2 separate regions of the Homo sapiens genome follow, and region 2 is linked to region 1. Evidence: fine-mapped expression QTL. Tissue or cell type: whole blood. Region 1 holds a variant in brackets; the other region holds the start of a gene. All regions are shown on one strand. Distances are from middle to middle.

Evidence for each region. PIP is the estimated chance that this variant, and not a neighbour inherited with it, causes the effect.
Region 2: it holds the start of DHRS12, and the variant in region 1 is fine-mapped to the expression of DHRS12 in whole blood (Lepik 2017, PIP 0.95).

The regions. Positions count from the first base shown.
Region 1 is chr13:51,887,467-51,890,154 of GRCh38, reverse strand. It overlaps a transcript of TMEM272 not described here. Among named protein-coding and RNA genes, the nearest start is that of CCDC70, 27 kb to the right of the region's middle. The variant C/T (reference allele first, on the strand shown) is at 1,352.
Region 2 is chr13:51,802,643-51,805,330 of GRCh38, reverse strand. It overlaps DHRS12 (dehydrogenase/reductase 12), which reads left to right and starts at 1,168. Exons shown (of 9, transcript NM_001377533.1): 1 at 1,168-1,277. It overlaps LOC107984561 (a long non-coding RNA gene), which reads right to left and starts at 1,495. Exons shown (of 2, transcript XR_007063805.1): 1 at 530-1,495. RefSeq lists an enhancer at 288-417 and a silencer at 968-1,607.

The DNA.
Region 1 (2,688 bases):
GCTCCCTCCGTATTTAGAGTGCTCAAAGATGAGGACTGCATCCTTGCATTTGTAGCTCACTCTGAGCTGAGGTCCCTCACAGCCACCACCAGTGTTGCTCAGCACTCCCAGGCACTTGGACTGCGCCCCATGGAGGAGTCTGGGAAGCCCCTCCATGCACCCCGTTTTAATTGTTCCTATCCTCTTGGTCTGCCACAAGAAAATACCACAGATTGGCTGGGCATGGTGGCTCACACCTGTAATCCCAGCACTTTGGGGGGCCGAGGTGGGCGGATCACCTGAGGTCAGAAGTTCAAGATGAGCCCGACCAACATGGAGAAACCTTGTCTCTACTAAAAATACAAAATTAGTCGGGCGTGGTGGCGCATGCCTGTAATCTCAGCTACTCGGGTGGCTGAGGCGGGAGAATCACTTGAACCCAGGAGGCGGAGGTTAAGGTGAGCCGGGATCGCACCATTGCACTTTAGCCTGGGCAACAAGAGCAAAACTCCATCTCAAAAAAACAAACAAAACCCCCCCACACACACACAAAAAAACAAATCGGATTGGGTGGTTCAAACAACAGGAAGTTATTTTCTCACAGTTCTAGAAGCTGAAAGTCCAAGATCAAGGTGCCGGCAGGGCTGGTTTCTCCTGAGGCCTCTCTCCTTGGCTTGCAGATGGCCACTTTCTCATCATGTCTTCACAGGGCCTTTTTCTCTGTGCATGCATCCCTGGTGTCTCCTCCTCTTCTTGTAAGGCTACAGTCCTGTTGGTTCAGGGTCTCACCCTTATGACCTCATTTACCCTTAATTACCTCTTTAAAGGCCCTATCTCCAAATATAGTCACTTTAGAGGATAGGGCTTCAACATATGAATTTTAGAAGGACACAATTCATTCCATAACAGAAGGGATATGAGGAAAAGTGTGAATACTTTTAGAAAAGCCTTTTAGAAAAGCAATTTGGCAATATCTATTAAAATTGTTAAAATAAAAAAGATACTCTTCTACCCAGAAATTTATTGCTAAGAAATTATCTCACAGCTAGAAAACCACCAGTAATAACGAAAATGTGTTCAAGGGTGTTTATCACAGGGTTGTTATTGTGGCAAACAGTTACACCTGGACACAATGTAGATACCCATCAGTGGGAAAGTGGTTAAAAAAATCATGATGAAATACACATCACCAGAGAGGCTCTGTGGCCATTAAAAAGAATTAATTAGAACTGGCCGGGCAGAGTGGCTCATACCTGTAATCCCAGCACTTTGGGAGGCTGAGCTGGGTGGATCACGAGGTCAGGCGTTTGAGACTAGCCTGGCCAACATAGTGAAACCCCATCTCTACTAAAAATACAAAAAATTAGCCAGG[C/T]GTGGTGGCAGGTGCCTGTAATCCCAACTACTTGGGAGGCTGAGGCAGGAGAATCGCTTGAACCTGGAAGGCAGAGGTTGCAGTGAGCTGAGATCGAGCCACTGCACTCCAGTCTGGGCGACAGTGTGAGACTCCATCTCAAAAAAAAAAAAAAAAAAAAAAAAGAAAAAGAAAAAAGAAAAAGGATTAATTAAAACTGTACCAATTTACTTGGAGTGATTCCTATAAAATGCTGTCATGTGAGAAAAGCAAGATGCATGAAGTGTGCATAGGGTGACTATAAAGTGACTGTAAATGATAAGGCAAATCTTATATGCATCTATATTGGTATATAATCACAAAGGTTGTTAACACGGGTAGCCTGGAAGGTGCTTATGGAGGGGACTGATGTGACAGGGAGGTTACAGAGGTGGGATCCCTGAAAGAGGAAATAAATTTTTATAAGATTGAGTCAAGTAGGCTGGGCGCAGTGGTTCACGCCTGTAATCACAGCACTTTGGGAGTCCGAGGTGAACGGATCACCTGAGGTCAGGAGTTCAAGACCAGCTTGGTCAACATGGTGAAACACCGTCACTACTAAAAATACAAAAATTAGGTAGGTGTGGTGGTGGGTGCCTGTAATCCCAGCTACTTGGGAGGCTGAGGCAGGAGAATTGCTTGAACCTGGGAGGCGGAGTTTGCAGTGAGCTGAGATTACGCCACTGCACTCCAGCCTGGGCAACAAAGAGCGAAACTCCGTCTCAAAAAAAAAAAAAAAGATTGTGTCAAGTGAAATTACAATATGTATAATGCAATCACACTTTACCATTTATATGAAGTTATATAGGTGTGTATATGTTTAAAGATGCTAATGAAATGAAATAAACTCATGTCTGTCCCAGAAAACTAGAGATGACTGGGCATTGGGAGGTAGGCATAAGGCAGAGCAGGAGGCAGATGAACTAGAAATGGCCCAACTTGCCTTTACTCTCAGCAGCCCCTTGTTCCCCAGTGGGCCTGAAATCTTCCAGAATGGGAGGAGAAGGAAGTGAAGGATTGAGAAGAGTTGGCAGAGTCTTCAAGGATTTACTGTGCCAGAAGGCTCACAATTTTCCTCATGCTGTGGTCTGGTCGTGGAAACAAATACCTCTAATTCCCTTTAAGTAGGCCAGAAAATGAGCCACATAAGGATATGCATTACTGGATTAGTGTGGAGGAGCAAGCTCAAAGCCAAGGACTTTCACAGCAGAAACATTCATTGTCTGGGCATGTCCTGTCTGTCCTGGGCAGTCTGTCAGCAAATAAAGCAGGTGTATAGAAAGATGGTCTTCATTTTCGAAATGAAAAATTGTGTTAAT
Region 2 (2,688 bases), 85 kb after region 1:
AGGGTATAAAAAACAGTATGTAGCCCTGGGGATCTAAAATATTTTCCCAGCCAAATCGGACAGGCATTGAAAGTCACACAGGCTGGGGTGGTTTTACAAAATGCCACTTGTTTAAATTTCCTTTCATCACTCTGTCAGGAATAACAGCAACGTAGTGGAGCCTCAGAGTCCTGTTGAGAGGGGCGAGCTGTTCCGGGGAAATTTATTTCAAAAGTTATTCTGAAGTAAAAACTTGCCCACTGTGGAGTGAGGTTGGACAGTGATCCTATATCCTAGGTAATGAGGCTATTAAAGCAGCTGGTCTCTTCAGCTTATGTAAGTGGGGCCCAGTCTCTGGGCGACTTGGGTAAACCGGTATAGAATTTAACAGGGTGACTAGGAGTGACAGCAGCAGTAAGACCCCCATTTCTAATGTGGCGTTAGGGCTGGAGGTTAGATGTGGACAGGGGTGTCTGAGTCCTACATAATGGGGCTGGATGACTAGTCTGAGATCTGGGTTCACGCAGCAACCACACTCTTTTTTACTCACACTGTTCATCTGGGCTTGGGTGGAAAGAGGCTGATGAGGATTTGGGGGAAATCAAGGGGCTCTCCCTGGCATTGCATGAAGTCGCAGAACCAGTGGCAAAAGTCCAACTTTGGAGACAATTACTTCTCGGGTGGGAGCCCCAGCCCTGCCTCTTGCCTGCGATGTCGCCAATCTGACTGCGCTTGCTGGAGACGGGAAATGTGGCACGGCACTGCATCCCCCAACACGTGTAGAAACTTAGAGAATGCCAGTTATTAAAATAACCCTTATGATAACACCAATTCGATGCAGAAGTCTTTTAAATATCATAAGCCTCGTCGTTTTATTCCACATGGTTTTCTAGGTAACCAAATTCTAGGAGGTGCGTTGCAGGGCCATCTTCGCATCCCGGCCATGCCCAGCAGGACGGTGTTCTCTAAACGGCGCTGATGCCCGATTTCGACCCCGAGGAGACTGCGGACCTCGACTGCGGCCCCCACCAGGGCCGGTCCGCCCTCACTCCACCCTCTGAGGCTGGGGCGGAGTCGACCGGCCGGCCCCGAGACCCCTTGCCTTACCGGTGGAGCAAGGAACCGGAAGCCGCGGCTCTTACATAACCGGGATGATGTCAGGGCGGGCGACTCCCGGGGGGCGGGACCAGGGCGGAGGCCGCGCCGGGAGCGCGGTGGGGCTAGGCGTGGGGCGCTCCCGGCATGTCCCTGTACCGCAGCGTCGTGTGGTTCGCCAAGGGGCTGCGCGAGTACACCAAGTAAGGCGGCGCGGCGGGGCGCGGGGCCCCGGGCTGTCACGTGGCCCGCCTCGGCGCGGGCGAGCAGGGTTGGCGGGGACGCGCCCGCGGCTCCTTCGCCCTCTCGCTGGGCCGACTAAGCGTGTCCAGAACGACGGGTGCGCCCGCCGTCTAGCGACCCACGGCTGGGCGTGGGGCAGTCGCCAGACTCCAGCCGCTCAATGCCCGCGACCGAGACTGGCGCCCGAGGGGCGGGGCTGTGGCGCGCCCAAGCCCAGGGCCGTCCCACTGACGTCAGGCGGCCCCGGCGCCAAGGAGCCTCTTGGGCGGCACCTCGGCGCCCCGCTGGGTGTGCTCGTGGAAGTGTCTTCGTGGTGCTGCTGGCGGCGTCAGATAGGGCTGGATCTAAATCGCTAGCTAAGGCTCTGTCCTAGTGCCTTTGGGTGTGTTTCCTTTAAAAAGATGCAGCACCTGGACTGCGACCTTTGGCTCCAGCTGGAACTTTCCAGCCAGTGTGTGCTTCTGGGGAACGGTGCGTGGTGGTTTCGTCGCCCCGTGACCACGCTCAGTGTGCCCTAGTTGGCTCTCCACCTCATTGTGGTTTTAAGAGGTGACAGGTTCCTGTGACGGAGGAGAGATGGAGGTTTTCTCTTAGAATTGATTAGGCTAACCGCTGGTTCTCAACCCTGTCTGCACATCAGAATCACTGGGCGAGAATTAAAAGTACCCAGTTTTCAGGCCCCATCCCTACAGATTCTGATTTAGTGGATCTGCACAGGGGCCTGGACTGGCATTTCATCCAAATGCCCCAGGTGATTCTCACCTCTGAGAGGCTTCTCCCTGCACTGGGGCTTTATCAGTTCCCACGGCAACCTGGCCAGCACTCCTAGGGGAGGTAGGAGTTGCAACTCCCTGCTCTTCACCCCACATCGTTTTGGAGAAGGTTCAGCTCTGTCTCAGGAGCCCCTGCTGCAGAGAATGGTGGGGAGTGTAGTCGTGAGCCCTGTCCCACAGTTTTTAGGGGAATACAGTGGCAGCCTCTTTCTTTCAAAGGGGTGTCCTCTGGCAATGACCATTAATTGCTGGATCTTTCCACATTACACAGCATGAAAGCTTAAGTCAGTTTCCAACCAGGGGTGGGCCCCAAGGAAAGCAGACTGTAAAAATTTCTCCCAGGACTCTTTCGCTCTGATTTCCCCACCTTGAGGGAAGGTAGAAGTGAGGCCAAGGGGCCCAATCCACCACAGATTGGTGGGGGAAGGGAGGGGAGGGGAAGGCAGTTGGCAAAGTTAGATGGGTTTTCCTGCTGTTGTGGATTTAGTGAATAGGAGAGAAAAACAACAACCTTGTTTTGACTTCAGTGTGAGAGCGCGGAGTTAGAGTTTACAACGTTTCTCTTGGCACAAGGATTTTTATAAAGCCTCCCTATATT